2 separate regions of the Homo sapiens genome follow, and region 1 is linked to region 2. A link means that fine-mapping ties the variant in region 2 to the plasma level of a protein whose gene starts in the linked region. Region 2 holds a variant in brackets. A gene starts in the other region. All regions are shown on one strand. Distances are from middle to middle.

Region 1 (8,632 bases), 16 Mb before region 2:
TGCTTGTATTCCCTAACGTTCTATCCTCAGACCATGGCTCTTCCTATTCTGCATACTCTTCCTGGGCAATGCCATCCAGCCTCGTGTTTTGAGCAACCACATGGAAACCAAGGAGCCCCAAGTCTATCTCCAGCCCTATCCCCTCCACCCAATTTCAGATTGCTACATCTCAGGGAAGCAGTAAAATCTAACGGTGGATTTTCACCACCATAACCTCAATAGCCAGCATATTATTTAACGAGTGAATGCACCTGGAATGCTCATAGCTGCCTCAAACTCAATGTGTTCCAATCGAAACTCACTGACTTCCTCTGAACCTACTCTTAAATTTTCTCTTAATTGGTGGCATTGCTATCCCTTCAGTCCCAGTGGTCATGTCACTCTTACCACCACCACATCCAATCAGTCATCAGGGCCTAACTTGTCCCACCACCCACAAAGTGTTCCTAGATACTTATCAGAGTAGTCTATCTTCTCTAGTCTAAATGACCACCCAGACTGTTATAGTTACCACTAGAATTAGGCCTTCCTTCTTTGCTCCCTTCACTTTGTTTTTCAATCTCTTCTCTTTCTTGGTATCTATCACAGTTTTATGTCTTTCTATATTAAACTCTGAACTGCTTCGAAGTAGAGACTGTGTTTCATTCATCTTTATATCACTAGCAACTAGCAAGTACTCCTTTTATTAAATAGAAACAATAAATTTCATTGTGTATGGGTGGGCACAGTAGCTTATGCCTGTAATCCCAGCACTTTGGGAGGCTGAGGTGGGCGGATCACTTGAGGTCAGGAGTTGGAGACCAGACTGGCCAACATTGGTGAAACCCCATCTCTACTAAAAACACAAAAAAAAAAAAAGAAAAAAAAGAACCGGGTATGGTCGTGTGCACCTGTAGTCCCAGCTACTCAAGAGGATGAGGCAGGAGAATTGCTTGAACCTGGAAAGTGGAGGTTGCAGTGAGCCTAGATCACGCCACTACACTCTAGCCTGGGTGACAGAGCAAGACTGCATCTCAACAAATAAATAAACTTAATTATGTAAAAAACTGCATGAATGTATAAGTGATTTATTATATAAGTATTTTATTGCTTCATGACCTGCAGTCAGTGAATATTTCATTTGCTCAAAAGCAATATTAAAAAATTAAACCCCAAACCTCAACCTAGTCTAAAAAAATCTGTTGAATTTCACAGAAATTAAGTGTCACCTGCATAATAAAAGTTCATTGTACAAATGACTAAGTTTATAGGTGACATGCTATTAGTAAATACCGTTTAGTGACCTGCGGTTACTAAATAGTTCATTTGCTTAAAAAATAAAATAGAAAACCTCACCTCAATATGAAAAGTAAAATCTGTTAAATTTCATGGAGTGTATGTACAGTATGTTACATCACTGTATCTGTCATTAAATTCCTCATTCTAAAATTGAAACCAAATAGACTCAAGGGTGATAAAGGCAAAAATGAGACAAGATACCTTTCCAGGTGAATCCAAGTTAAATACAATGCTTCACAGGCTGACTCTTTTCAGCTGACCTGCTTTGTAATTCCAACTGAAATGATTACAGGTAAACAGGAGAGCTGCCATTTCTAAGAGTCAGCCCTGACTACTTCTCTGAGCTCCATAATAAGCTTCTCAGTAACTAGGCAGCCCCTCATAGCTGAGCCACTCTGAACCCACCTGAGCTGTTCATGCAACCTACTTGGGTCAAGAGAATATATTAATACTTATTGTGCATCACAACTTCACAGTAAGTATGTTCTGTTGACACAAATAGGGCGGAGAGGCATGACATCACAGGGTCCCTGGCTTTGCTGGGCTTTCAATCTGACAGAAAGGCACAGTCCACTCATGAGGAGAACAGCTGGGCCCTAATTAACTGCCAAGCTGTCTGGTCTAATGAGAGTGAGGGATGGCATTCCAGGCTGAGCTCTGAGTGCTTCCTTTGCTTGATGGTGGCAGCTCAATTTCTTGAATCTGGACAATATCTTGACTCTGACTAATTCCAGCTTAACAAGAAGGGTGTTGTCTCTCGAATGAATGTAACAGGAAAGCAGAAAAGCATAAAGACAGGGGTGAGCAGGAAACTTGCCCTACTCAAGCAGGAGGTTCATGGAGGCTCAGCTCAACTCTCATTATTGGTGAATTGGTGCAATCTTTTCTGGAGAGCAAATATCTAACAAAATTTTAAACGTACATATTCCATGACCTAGCAGTTATACTTCTAGGAACTTATTCCACAGATATACAGCCACAAGGACATAAATGTGTGTATCATTGCAGCAATGTTGGCAGAAAAAAAAAAAAAACCCCACCTATATAACCCCAGACAGGAACCTGGCTAAAAAGAATATGCAACCATATTTTAAAATGCAGTAGTGGTGTGTGCTTTTAGGTTGATATATTGTTAAATGAGAAAAGCAAGTTAAAGTAGGCACAATATTTACCCATTTATGTTTTCAATAAAAGACTATGCATATGTATGTCATGGATAGAAAATTTCAGAATTACACAAAAAAACTGTTAATGGTAATCCCCTAGGAGTGGGACCCTCTGGTAGGCGGCGAGCGGATTTTATGCTCAACTTTATACCTTTCTGCACTGTTTTAATTTTTTGACCGTGGATGTATTTTATAAACAAAGCAACAAAAGTAAAACGAGAAAGAGACTATGTCATGTCCTATGTAAATTTCTCCTGTTACCAACACTCCCCTCTCAGTCTTCCCTCTTGGCACCTCTCTAGCATCTTGTATTTATAGTAGTTATTAGCAGCCTGGTGGTGAGATAGGCTTGTGTAGACTCCAGTGGAAAAGATTTCTACTTCATCTCTGGGCTGAGGTGTTAAGAGGAAGCTAAAATTCAGCACTGGACACATCTCTGAAATTGCTTATAAAGCAATTTATAAACATCCTAAGCTAGCCCTGTGAACTTTTCTTAGGATCCATTCACCTTTGATCGTCTACCCCATCCCCAAATATATAAGAAAGCTCTACCTTGGAGGGCTTGTACCCAAACAGCATTACAACAGCAGTTTTAAAGTCCTCTCTGCTGAGATATCCTTTGTGATCTTCATCACATGCTTTAAATACCTGAAGAACATTAAATAGCTTTAGTTAATGAGACAGAAATGGTTTATTTTTATTACTAGTTTATTATACAGTTTGGACCTCGAAAATCTAAAACTTGGCCCAGCGGTAGAGTATGAAAATAGAATTTCATTATCCCAATATTAATTCTCAAGAAATCTTAAAGATGGACTGAAATTTTCTTAAACATGGGCTGAAATTTCCCTCAAAGTGCAAACGAGTTAACCGCTAGGTGACGCAAATTAATTCATTTAGGCCACTGAGATAAATTCTACCCAAAATTCAGTCCTGGAGTTAGGAAGGTGAGGCAAAGGGGCTGGCTTTGAAAGGCGGGAGAGATGCAGACTCAAGGTTACCATTAATAGACTATATAGAGAGAAAGGAGATGGAACTTGGAGGTAGCCGTAGTCCTGGACGGGGAGCCAGGAGCCCTGCAGCTCCAGGATCAGTCATTAACCACGACCCTTTGGACAGGCAGCCCAGGTCTTATCTGCACACCCGGCAGAGTGAGACCCAGACACGGGAGAGGAAGCGAGAGGCCCAGGCCAAGCTGAAGTCCGAGGCTCAGTCGCCCTCCGGAAACCTACTTCCACCCACTTCCTGTGTTCCGAGGGACTGGCTTCCCACGTCCGCGACCTGGCTCTGGCCTCGGAGAAGAACATCGCGACTACAACAACCGAGCCCCAGCAACCCAACCAGCTACCACCGCTTTCCCAGCCTGGCTGGCAGCCTACCGCGGCCACGCCCACCGCGGCTCAGGAAGCCGAACTTCACCGCGCAACTCCGACGTCTCCTCCCATTGGACAACCTGCCAGCCACTCGCGTTAATCCCGCAGGGCTATTGGCCAGAGTCTTTGTTTAATTACGTTTCCTTGGAGCCGCCCTGGCAGTGAGGCGCCCAGGCCTGCCCCCAGCACTTGGCTCCACCCCCTGACTGTCCCTTAACTCGTTGAGCGCGGCTGGAAATCCAAGCGCTTCTAGGTGCTGGTTCAATGCCTGGTTCATGATTTATTTCATTCTCTCCCTCCATCTTGCAATAGGTTACTTTTAATCATTTAGATCTATGACACTATGCTAAACGTTATAGGAGACAAAAAGACTGTGAACAAACAAGAAGAACCAAACGAAAAGAGCCAAGTCCAGGATTCTCGTTCAGATCAGCAAGTCATTGGGATCGAGCTCCTAGGGCAGCTACTACATCTGTTATGTCCTCAAGATAATCCCAGCACCTAGCACTGTGCCTGGCACAAAGTAGATCTTCAATGAAAGAACGAAACGAGCCGTTATATTTACACAGATGTATTTCACTCAGTCCTCTGGAAGAGATGCCTAGTGTGAAAGAGATTCCAAGAATAAATACCATAAACAGCACCGAGCCCAAATCCCACAGCAAACATCCTTATTAAAGGCAAGGAACGTGGGGCGAGTTCCTTTTCTCAGAAGATTTTACGAGAACGCAACTGTTGCGAAGAAGGAACAGACATTCGAGGTTCTGAGTCCAATGGGAACTCATTTAACTTTTTATTTTGCAGCAGATTTCAAAGTCTGCACCCAGCCCCTCCCAGGACACAGGTCTCCTTGCAGCTGCCTTTAACCTAAGCGTATCCTCTCTCCACTTTAAACCAAACGCCGCTGCATGGAGCCCTGGGAGCCTGAGCCATGAGAATCCTGTAAAGAGGGTGAGTCTTGCTATTAGTTAACTAGAGCGAAGTTAGGGGACGCCTTTCTGGTTCTCCTCTCGTTTTAAGAAGTCTCCAGGAAGTAAGCCAAGAGCTAGGAGAGACCAGGTTTCCCCAGCCCCGTCCTGGGTAAACACCCGGCGGGCTTTAGGACCCAGCGGTGGGCTCTCCGGAAGGGGAAGGGGCCGGGCCTCGAGGCACAAGCCGCTGCCGCCAGGGTTTGAACTGCGCGCATGCGCGGCGGCCGCCGAAGGGGCGGGATCCGAGGCAAGCGTTGGTTCTGTGCGCCTCAGGTACGTGTTGGGCGGCAGTGGGCGCGGACTCGGTGCGGTCTCTCGCGGGCTGCGGTCGGGCCCGGGATCCTGCTCCTGGCCGAGTCGCGGTGCGCGGGCTGCTGGGGTCCGGCAGGGCTGGAGGCGGACCGCGAGGAAGCGGCGCGGCCGGGAAGATGGGGCAGGGTCGCCTCGGCCCCGGGGCCTCGGTTTCCTCCGATCACAGCGCCTCAGGGGGCGCGCACGGGCGCTGCGGAGACCTGTGTCCTGCCGGGGCGCGGCGCTAGGGGCCCCTGCTCGGGTTTTTATTCCCAGACCTAAGCTTACAGGTGCGTGGTCCCAGAAAGTGAGTAGGAAAGCGCCCACCACGTGCCAGGCGCTTAAGCTTTCTGTGCTCGGTTTCCCAGTATAGGAGGACGGTCACGGTACGTAGTATAGAGTTGTCCTGAGGGTGAAGCGAGTTTACACTTGGTGAGGCGCTTCGAATCGTGCCTGGCCGGCCCCAAATGAGCACGCAGTAAGGTTAGCAGCTGCTGCCGTCACTTCCTCACGTTCTGAATCTGCTCCGTCCCCAACGCCTTCAGCAAGAGCCCTCTCACTTCCTTTGTCTTCAACCCATTCTCCGCAGAGTTGGAGCACACAGCTGTATTAAAAAGGCAAATCGAAGGCCGGGCGCGGTGACTCACGCCTGTCATCCTAGCACTTTGGGAGGCCGAGGCGGCTGAATCACTTGAGGTTAGGAGTTTGAGATCAGCCCGGGCAACATGGTGAAACCCCGTCTCTACAAAAATAGAAAAATTAGCCGAGCGTGATGGTGGATGCCTGTAATCCTAGCTCCTCGGGAGGCTAAGGTAGGAGAATTGCTTGAACCTGGGAGGCAGAGAGGTTGGAGTGAGCCGAGATTGCGCCATTGCGCTCCAGCCTGAGCGGCAGAGCGAGACTCTGTCTCAAAAAAATAAATGTAAATCGGACTCCCCTTCTTAAAGCCCTCAGTGGGGTCCCATTGATCATTGCATAAAATCCAATTTCTTTAACAAGTCTTCTCCCCTCACCCGCTTCGGACCACTGCCTGCCTTGCCTAAGTCCTTTCTTATGACCTCTTTCCCACCTCTGCCGGCTGGGTTCCCTCTACTTGGGAATGCTCTTCACCCCATCATTTAGACAGCAGGTTCCTTTTGGCCCTCTGGGTCTCATTTATATGTTACTTTTTAAGTATATTCCAAAGGTCACCCCTATTTTTCTGTCTCATACTTATAAAATGTAATGAATGTCTAACTCATCTTGGCTATTAAAATTTTTATGTGTGGGTCTGTCTCTTCTGCCCTGAAATTAGCTCTGCTAGGGTAGAAACTATATTGTTAACGCCTCATTCCCAGTTTTTGGTACATAATAGCTGCCCAGTAAGTTATTGAATGAATGAACTCCAGGGGGTAAGCATGATATCCATTTCACAGACTAAAAAACTGAGGCTCAGCAGTTAACTAACCTGCCCAAGTGCACATTTACTCCCTAGTCATGGCCGGGTTTGAGACAAGGGACCATGTTTGCCTATTACTGGCCACACAGGAACTCAATTGAGGAGCATGGCCTCCAGGCCCAGCTGATGGTCTTTAAGCTCAATGAGAAGGAGCAGCTGGAGGTGAAAGAGAAATGCCCCAGCTGGGTCTCATATAGTGGGGAGTGAGGAAACACTAGTAGCTCTAAATGGAGTACCCTTTTATATCCACAACATGTTTTAAAGTCCTTAATAAAAGTGCTAACAGTGTCCTGAGCTAGCATTTGGTGGGAAGATTTCTTAGATTTTTCATGTTAGTGCAGTGTTTGCCAAATTTCACTCACACTCACCTGCCTTCTCCCCAGTTTGCTTTATTCTCTTAACACATGACACAGGATTTATTTCAGGGCCGCTTTGCCAGCTGGAGACCTCCAGCCCTGGGCTGGCTGCAGGAGGTGCCCTGCCCACTCAGCCTGGCAGAATGCATTTGTCTTTCATCCCCGCCCAGATCCCGTGGCCACTATGACTGCATGCTCAGCCCGCGAGGAGTCGGTTTGTGAGTGAGTGAGCAAGCCTGGAGGCCCGGCTGGCTGTTCCAAGTGCTGGCCCAGTCACAGGCTCCATGTAGGGCTTGTGGATGGCCTGGGTGTATGGCAAGTGACTCTGGTAGCAGATTCTGGTGTCCAGACGAGGGGGATGCAGTAGTGCCCAAACACTTGGAGACACCAGGCAAATAGAGATGTATTAACAGCTCTTTTAGTCCCACCATCTGCAGCCCAATGAATGGGGGTGTGTGGCAGCCAGCAGCTCCCTCTCCCATTGCTTCACTAGCGGAACGGAGTGCTACAGGGTTATAGCTCTATTTGCACTCGCTGTTTAGCTGGTCCGAATTTCTTGTCCTGCGTCCAAGAATAATGAGGTTAGGCTGACAACCGAAGGGGAAAAGGGCGGAGGTGAGTTTTACTCAGTGATGAGACAGTTCTCAGCAGAGACGGGACCCCAAGTGGATGGCCCCTGCCCTGACCCCAAGGTGGGCAGTTCGCTGGTGTGACTGAGTCTGGGGCTTTTATGGGCTCAGAATGAGGGAGTGTGTGCTCCATGGTTTGTGAGTATGCAAAAAAGGCTAAAACAAAGGCACCACTCAAAGGTGGGCATGACAATGTAAAAAACCAATTAGGGAAGGGTAGATATATGTAAAGTAGGTGAAGGGTGGGGATTGATCAGAGGAAAGTGTGCCAAGTGGGAAGAGGGGTTATCAATCCGGTCCGTGGATTTACCCAACACTTGTAGCTTGGCTTTCAGGCTTTAAACTGTCTTTGGTTTGCAGGTGGGGTTTCACTGGGGCCCTGCCCCTATCTGCCTAGGGATTTGTCTGCCTCCTGCCGCTATCACATAGACTATCATATACTTAATATTTTTGTTTGAATCCAATCATTCTTTTACATAAAATAAACTTTATTTTGCTATTTCAAATATAACGTAGCCATAAGATACCTTCTGTTGATGGTAAACAAAATTGTTGGTGCCTGCAGAAGAGCCCAAACCCTGCTATTTGTTCAAAATCAAGATTAAAAGCATTTCTACAACACTACAACTTTCTTCTTGATTTAAACAGGGAGTTTGGATTGGAATGGAAAGGGAAGTACTTTCATAATGTCAGGTCCCAATCACTTCCACTTCAGGAAACACTGTGCCGTTCTGATTGAGTGCCAGGATTCAGAATCAACACAGCTATATTGTATTCTGATTCTTTCAGTACCACTTACAAAAAGTGTGACTTCAGATTTATGCTGTACCAAGCACTGCCCAGGCAGGGAAGACAGATGATAAACAATTGAAGGAAAGCTCTCAGGTTCTACATTTCTTAAAACTGTATGACTTGATTACAAAGCACTCTGAAATGCTGGGCACCAGAGCCTCTATGAGGGAAGTAAATTCTGTTACTGGTGACCAGTTATCCAAAGTAAAAGTTTGATATTGGTGTTTACTAGCAGTTCTTTTCCAACTGGGCGGGAGCCTTGATGTCATAAAGAGGTTGGTAAGCTGCTACATTTAACAACAAGACACAATTTTATTAGTCTGTTGCACTAAATTGTA
Region 2 (8,632 bases):
TTGGGAAATGGAGTCATAGGGGATCATTTTGGAGCTTTAATATTTGACTGCTCTGCTGGATTTTGGACTTGCAGAGGGCCCCTTTGTTTTGGGCAATTTCTGTCATTTGGATGGGTGTGTTTATCCAATGCCAGTACCCCCATTGTTTCTAGGAAGTAACTTGCTTTTGACTTTACAGGTTTATAGGTGGAAGGGACTTGCCTTGTCTCAGATGAGATGTTAGACTGTGGATTTTTGAGTTAATGCTGAAACAAGTTGACTCTGGGGGACTGTAGGAAAGGCATGACTGGTTTTGCAATGTGAGGACATGAGATTTGGGAGGGGCCATGGGGCAAAATAATATGGTTTGGCTGTGTCCCCACTCAAATCACATCTTGAATTTAACTCCCATAATTCCCAGTGTCATGGTAGGGACCCAGTGGTAGGTCATTGAATTATGGCTGCGGGTTTCTCCAGCACTGTTCATGTAATACTGCATGAGTTTCACGAGATCTGATGATTGTAAAAAGGGAGATCCCTGCACAAGCTCTCTTCTCTTGTCTGCCACCATGTCAGATGTGCCTTTCACCTTCCACCATGATTGTGAGGCCTTTCCAGTCATGTGGAAGTGTAAGTCCAATAAAACTCTTTCTATTGTAAACTTCCAAGTCTCTGGTATGTCTTTATCAGCAGCATGAAAACAGACTAATAGTCAGACATGATCTACTCAAGGCCTCTGCACATGGAGAAAAGCCAGTGAAAGTGGAAAATGTATTTTCTTGATTTATTGAAAAATACCTATAGAAAACACAACTGTGTGCCAGGACATCAAGCAGAATTTAAAAATTATGCAATTGGAATAAATGTGAAAATTACAATCATTTGCAGACACACATCTGTTCATATATCTTTCAATGAAATAAAGTAAATGCCAGTGTTCTGTGTAAAAATCAACAAAGAGTGTGTTGACCCTGAGAATACACCTCTCTCCCTCCCTTTAAAGGCAGGAAAATGCACATGGATCAGGTGTCAAGCTGCTGCTTTCTGACGTCTATGCTATGGCCCAGATCCTGTGGTCCACTCTAATGAAAAGAAGGACTCTTTAGTGATTCTGAGGCAGAGTCATTGCTGGAGTCACAGGGGTTCCCCCTTGGGTAATGTTGACTTGTAGTAGACTCAAATATGTTTTACACCTTCCTTGCACAGCACAGAAACCTAAGAATGTTTCACCCAATCCTCCGTCCATCTCTCCTTTACTCAGGGACAGATTTCTACCATATGCCATCAGCTTCTGCAGCCACATGTCACCCCCTGTGCATTTCCTGTCAAAAGAGTGGAAGTACTTCTTATGAAAAATGCATGAAAGCATAATCCAGTCTTGGACTTTCCATCTCAAAAGACCAATAATAACACATATATTTCAGCAAAATTATTTATCCTATGATTATGACTATATTTGGCAATTGTTTTGGCAAAAAACAAAAATCATGGTGTTGGATAATGAAGATGTAAGAAGGGCCAAGACTGTTACAACTTTTTATTGATGACCTGGGGCGTAGTAGGGGTAGGTGCTGACCTCAAGATAAGAGGACTGGAACCTCATTGCAACTGTCTGAGTGTACTCACGCAGGCCTGCCTGGGGTTCCAAGGCTTGCATGGCAAAGCTGTCAGTGCTGTCATCTATAATTCTAGCACCACATTTGAGGGAACAACATACTATAAAGTACATAATGAGAACTAGGGTAAGGAGTGCAATTCGCAGTTTTAAAAGTAAAGATTTGAACGCATTAGTTTATGGCTTTGTAGCCTACAAATAATTTAGAATTTCGTCCAAACTGCTGAAGAAAAAAAAACAAGAACAGCAAACAACAGGTGTACTATATTTTTAAAGCATAATTTTTTTCTCTCTTGTCCCCATTTTTATTTAAAACAAATCAAGATAGGACTGATTTATTTGCAAAATAAACTTTAGTCTTATTCATGGCCTTATTATTTGCATAAAGCACAATACAAATAATTATTGTTTACACAGGCTTTTAAAATTGGCTTTGGTGGAACTCTGTTCCATAAGGAATCTCAGATAAGACTTTTTTAAAGCCAAGCCCAGCCATGAGTTTTTACCATCAAATACCTGTAAGTCTGGTAAATTATTTTTCCTCTGGGGTCCCAGGAAAACATGGGGTTCTTGGGCCTGTTAGAAAGTGACATTCTTTACTTACCACTGGTCAGGAACCTTGTACAAAGACTGTGTGGACAAGGTACAGGCCAGTTTTCCCAAGGGGCTCTTATTGGCTGTATAAGTCAAGTTCGATTGCTTAAGGTGAAGCACGCCATTACAGTCAAAGCCTTGGTAAAATAACCAGTTTCTCCAATTGTGTCCTGTTGCAAAAAAAAAAAAATCTTACTGCACTTATGAAAAATCATATTGCCATAAGTTAAGGATATTCACAAAGAGTTTCCAAATTCTGGAGAAAGTGGACAGAGAGAAACAAATATTCTCCAAATTTTATGTACAGGACTATACTCAATTGTTGAAAGCTATAAATAGCTCAAAAGAAAAGTTTTCTTGGGCAACATTTTAAGTGAAAAGTCAAAAAAGATAGTCTTCTATTTGATAGTTTTATCTCTATACTATTGTAACCATCTTCAGAGTTTTTAATCAGAAATCTGCATGTAAGAGCACCTGTTAGAGTTTCATAGATGGTTATAAAACCATCACTTAAAGAGAAACAAAACAAGTCGATAAGGTCAAAACTCAAAGGGAGGAATTGAAGCCACCACTGCAAAGCTGCAACTGAAACAGTGAAAGAGCTGTGACCTAACCTGCTCCATCTTGCCTCAAACCTCCAGGTTGTCCTTGTGCATTCCTGGGTGTAGGCTTACCTAACATTGGGAGGAACTTAGTTTAGTTTATAGTTTAAAACAGAGACAATAACTGCCCTTTCCCAAAACAAATCTCCTTCGTCCTGGGGACTAGACTGCCTTTGGGGGACTAACGAATTAGCCAAAATATTAGAAATTATGTTTTAAGAGTCATGCAGCTGGTGGCTACAAATTCTAACCCTTCCTAGTTTGCTCCTGGGGATAAAATGACTATTATAAAGCCTAAGATCAATGCTTTAGATATTTTACAGACTCTGCACTTGATGGATCAGCTGGCATCACCCAGATCAATAAACTGGCTCATCCGATCTTGTGGCCCCCTCCTAGGAACTGACTCAGCACAAGACACCTTCAGCTCCCTATGATTTTATCTCTGACCTGATCAATCAGTACTCATGACTCACTGGCTGCCCCCAACCCACCAAGCTATCCTTAAAAAATCCCATTCTTGAATGCTTGGCGAGACTCATTTCAGTAACAATAAAACTCTGGTTTCCAATAAATAAATAAATAAATAAATAAATAAATGTCATGGCAACAATCAATTTTATGTGTCCCCTTGACTCATAGAGTCATTTATTCAGTTACACACTAACCTAGGTGTTGTACTGATCCTATAATATAAGTGTTAGTAAAGCCTGCCATCATTTTTTTCCTAAGTCAGGAAGATTGTCCTAGATAACCTAGGTGGGGCTGATTCCATCAGAGCATAAGAGATGA[C/T]GATGGGACTCCATGGAGGATGACAGTGTAGGTCTTCCCAGAAATTCCAACTCCATTGACCTGAAACCCTGTAGGATTTGCCTAGCCAGACCCTCCAATTGCTGTCACCCAGAGCTCACAGCACAATAGAGTGTCCATCCTTAGCTTTCCCCAAAGTCACAGATGAAGGAGGAAATTCTGTGACAGTGTGAGAAACAGAAGATCAGCTCTACATCAGTATCTCATTTGAGAAAGCTACCATTATCCCCTCAGTGACTAATGTCCACTTCATTTCCCAAATGCCTCCATGCACAGAAGACAGCAGGCGGGTCCAGGCAATGGTGAGTGGGAAAGTCCCCTCAGCCTCCCCAGGTCTCACAGGAGCCACAGCCTGGGCCACACCTGAGTTCCAGGTAACAGGCCTGAGCCCTGAGATTTAGACCACAGAAAACACACTCTCTGTTTTCTGGGAAGGGAAGAAAAGGGAACTATGAGAATGAAGTGTAGAGAGAAGAAAAATTGATTAGCAAGTAAGGGCCAGCTGGATCAGTTCTGAGTCAGATGTGCACAGTTTTGCCAGAGGAGGGAGAACAGCTGTAAAAACTGTCAGGATTTAAGGACCCTCCCATGGGTGAGACTCCCTCTTGGCCCAAGTCTGAATCCCAAACCTATTCTAATCAGAGATTTCCACGGAGGTCTCTGCCCTGAGCCTGACTGGAAAACACTCCCCAGGTTCCACTGGGCTTCCTCAGGACACTGATCAATGTGACCAAGGCAGGGTCATTTCTGCCCCCAAGGTGACACTCGGGCTTCTGTAGGGGTGAGGATGGGTCTTCCTGTTACAAAAAACAAAACAAAACAAACAAACAAAAAACAAATATGTGAGGGAAGTTTAGCAGTCACAGACATCAAATGTTAGTACAGAATTGCAAATCTAGAGAAGTTCCCTCGGGTAATTTGGTAACAACGCAGCCCCAGATCAAGACAGGAAACCCAGCCCTTGTAGCACCTGCACTTGCCCCTGGGGTCAGCACAGTGCACAGTGTCCCAGGCTTTCCCTGGTTGTCCCAGGTACCCTGAAGGGAGGTTTGTGTCTGGGCTCACACTGACTTCTCCTTACCGTATCTCTCACAGAGTCATATGCAGCTGCATCCTCTGCCCTCAGTCTGTTCATTTGCAGATACAGTGAGTTTTTCGTATTGTCTCTGGAAATGGTGAATCGGCCCTTCACAGAGTCTGCGTAGTACATGGTACTACCACTACCACTAATAACTGGGACCCACTGCAGACCCTTCCCTGGAGCCTGGGGGACCCAGTGCGTGCTATGGCTACTGAAGGTGAATCCAGAGGCTGCACAGGAGAGTCTCTGGGACACCCAGGCTTTGTCAAGTTTGCTCCAGACTCTACCAGCTGCATCTCACACTGGACACCTGCAAACACAGAGACATCCTGGTAAGAAACTGCCACACATATCCACTGTTTCGCTCACTTATGTCCATTCACACTCAATAGCTCTAGTTCTCCATAAATCACCTTTTAAAATAGCAGCAAGGAAAACCCACCTCAGCCCCAACTCCATGGTGAATCCTGTATGTTCAGTGTTGACCAAGCAGAAACACCTGGGAATCCCGGGGCTGAGGCTCCTCTGCCAGAGCTGCAGGGTCAGGGTTTAGCTGGTTTTCATCAGCATGGGGAGGGCCCTATTTGCGTGTCTCCTGCTACACAGAGAGCTCTGGGGTGGGAACCCTGAGGAGACGGCAGACCCCAGATAAAATGACAGGGCCCCGCAGGAGTTGGGTGACAATTATGGTATTTGGGAAATACACTGTCTTATTATGAAAATGTGTTGTGATAAACATTTTGCACTATTATATTTTTACATATTTGTGCAAATTATGTTCTGTAGAAGTCAATGGTTTCTCCATTTACAGATGTGAAATAAACCCACACATGGAGGAGGGGCTGTGTGTGTCTCATGTCTGAGATGAATGAGCCCTGGTAGCTTGGCCTGTGCTCCACATCAGTGGCCCCAGTTACTCCCTGAACCAACTCCAGGTAAGAATTGGACATGCCTAGTGTGCTTTGTGGAACCCACTTCCTGTATTGAGAACTTGAGTGATTTTTGTGGCACTCTAGCATTCACCTAAAAATAAGGAGAGAACTAGGGTTCAGGAGGTAAATTCTCAGATATTTCTGACTTTTAATGGATATTTTGTATCTTTATACCACCGCTTTTGGTCTAATTTTTCATTTGTTTGCTTGCAATAAATTTTGTGAGTGTTAATTGGCAGATAATACACTTCACGTATTTAAAGTGTAGAATTGAAAACATGATGTAAGCGTCATCATTACTGAGGTGGACAAGTGAGTTCCCCTCAACATTTTCTCTTGTTCTTCTGTATGTTTCCACATTTCCCCTTCCTTTATTCTACCCTTTTCCCAGGTAACTACTCATCTTTTGTATATTACTTTAGATTTTTTTCATTTGAAATAAATTACATAAATGGAGTAATATAGTACATATTCTTATTTGTCTGGCTTATTTTACTCAGCATAAATACTTAGATACTTTTCCTTGTTGTTCTGTGTACCAGAAATATATTTATTATAAATGTTGAGTAGTATTCCAGTGAAAAAATTTACCAGAATTTGTTTCTCTATTAGGCAGCTGAAAAATGTTTGGATTCTTTTATTATTCTGGATCTCACTAAAAAATATGCTGCTAAGCTTAAAAATGTACATAGATGAGAAATATATATATATACACACATATTTATTTATTTATTTATTTATTTATTTTTAGAGACAGAGTCTCACTCTGTCACCCAGGCTGGAGTGCAGTGGCGCGATCTCAGCTCACTGCAAGCTCCACCTCCCGGGTTCACGCCATTCGCCTGCCTCAGCCTCCCAAGTAGCTGGGACTACTGGTGCGCACCACCACACCTGGCTAATTTTTTGTATTTTTAGTAGAGATGGGGTTTCACCGTGTTAGCCAAGATGGTCTCGATCTCCTGACCTCGTGATCCACCCACCTCGGCCTCACAAAGTGCTGGGATTACAGGCATGAGCCACCGCACCGGGCCCATATATTCATTCTTACAACAATAGTATCAACAATAACAGATAAACAGAAAAGATGGAAGTTTGCAAATTTTACTTAATGCTTCAGATAATTGAGGGTTGAAAACAAACAAAATATTTGAAATCTAGGGAGAGGCAAGTTCCTGTAGAGAGTAATGAAGCCAGAGTATGAAATTCCCTGAGGCAGAGGCTGTCATATAAAATGTAGGCTATTACAAGATGAAGAACAAATATACACTGGATTGCTTGAAGTCGAGTGTGTTAGGCATGTTATAGTGAGAAATTCTAAGGGACCTCATACTGGAGAGTTGCCCTAATCTCTTGAATCATTTACCCCTGCAAAACATCTTCCTTTCCCATAGTATCTGTCTGGGAGAGAATGAGCTCACACTTCTGAAATGCATCCAGACCCAGTTCTCTGATCCCCACTACAAAACTAAGATATTACCCTGCAGGAGCAAGCCATGAAAATCAGCATCCTAGGGCACTGGTGCAGCCCCTTAAGAATTGAGGTATGAACAGAGGTTCCCATCAAAGCTCTATTGAGAAGCAGCTCCCCTCACTTTCTTACGGAATCAGAGCTTTAATCTGCAGGTCATGGCAGCAGATCTGGAAGTTGGGGACACCAACAGAGATTATGAGAGCTGTGGGAGGGAACAACTGGGGAAAACAAGAGGAATCTGCCCCAGGGGAAGGAGCAAGAACACACAGACCAGCATCTCATCTGGAGGAGGGTTGGGAACACTTGGAAAGTCAGCTCACACTCAGGATCACAATGATTTTCTGGAAATATGACCCCATGAGAGGTCAGAGACAATTCCTTTAGTATAATGTCTTCCACCAATTTCACAATTGGCAATTAAATATAACACTTTAATCCACCTTAAGAATCTGAAAGAGATTCTCTGTAGAATGGAATGATTGTGTATGAATCATGCCATGAAACTGTCTTCACGGTGACTGGATTTGCCTGTTGATTTTGACATGATGACCATGATGTTGATGACGAAGATGACATTCTCAGAAAAATAACCCAGGTTCAAAGAGCTAACTGCAGAGTCATATTTATGTTTGTTTTACTTCGGGACAGAAAGGGCGTGAGGTCTAAATAACGTAATAAATGGTCTCCTGAGGTTTGGATGCTGTTAAGCAAAATAAGACAACCCGAGGTGGCGGTCACAGGCTCCCTGGCTGGTTCCTCGCTGCCTCTGCTCCTCACTGAGGCTCTGTCTTGTGTGAGTTCTGAGCATCTCCTGCGGGTCCTCTGGTGCCCATCCAGCCCAGATAAAGGAGGGCTGGGGGTTCTGTTTCTCAGGTGCTCAGTCCTGTGCCTGGCTCCAGTTCAGGAGCTCAGCCTGTCCTGTGTGCTGAAGCTTTTAGCTCTCCCGTGCAACCTCGCCTGTACACTGAGTTTCTTCACAGCAAAGTGACAGGGTCAGCTTCACAGACATCGCTGCAGGCAATTTTCAGCAAATCTAATTTTAGTTTGACTATGTAATTCAGCAATCATGTTCATTGTGGTGTAAGTGACTGACATATCCACACACACACAAACAAACACACATGCACACACACACGCACACACACACACCCAAACTGCATGGACATTCATTTACATTTCCCCCAAACTGGACACATTTTGTATTATTCCTGATAAGTTCAGAAAGTTCTGAGGTTTTAATCATAAACTAAACATAACATTTTCCATAAACAAAATTAGTAATGAATAAGATGAGAAAATCGGGTCAGAAAAATCAAGATTGAGTTATTACCCGCAGTCTAATGGTGGTAAGTTACATAATGGAGCTGTGATGAGACAGGCTCCCAGGTGCTCTAATTCTTAACCACTCAATTACAGCTGACCAGTAATCTCCGAGAGTGAGGAAGCTAGAGGTTCCCCACATGGGAAAGCTCTCTGACTCCACAAAACTTCGCTGAGCTTCTCTGCAGGCTCAGAGGTGTGCAGACTCCTACCCCAGATTCTGCAGTC

Direction of the effects. Alleles are on the strand shown, and positions count from the first base shown. The strength of an association depends on the size of the effect and on how common the allele is.
For the plasma level of the protein whose gene starts at base 5,018 in region 1, T is the high allele of the variant in region 2 and C is the other (strong association).

Evidence for each region. PIP is the posterior inclusion probability: the model's chance that the variant is causal. Protein levels are from antibody-based Olink assays in UK Biobank. Linkage for the fine-mapping came from a reference panel and not from the study's own genotypes, which makes the PIPs less certain.
Region 1: TDP1 starts here. The variant in region 2 is fine-mapped to the plasma level of the TDP1 protein (UK Biobank, PIP above 0.99).

The regions. Positions count from the first base shown.
Region 1 is chr14:89,950,910-89,959,541 of GRCh38, forward strand. It overlaps TDP1 (tyrosyl-DNA phosphodiesterase 1), which reads left to right and starts at 5,018. Exons shown (of 17, transcript NM_018319.4): 1 at 5,018-5,061; 2 at 5,669-5,891. EFCAB11 (EF-hand calcium binding domain 11) reads right to left here and starts at 3,821. Exons shown (of 6, transcript NM_145231.4): 1 at 3,677-3,821; 2 at 2,997-3,092. The coding sequence starts at 3,751. RefSeq lists enhancers at 3,550-4,050, 7,076-7,584 and a silencer at 5,116-5,345.
Region 2 is chr14:106,050,859-106,059,490 of GRCh38, forward strand. It overlaps IGH and the pseudogene IGHV3-6. Among named protein-coding and RNA genes, the nearest start is that of FAM30A, 140 kb to the left of the region's middle. The variant C/T (reference allele first, on the strand shown) is at 3,583.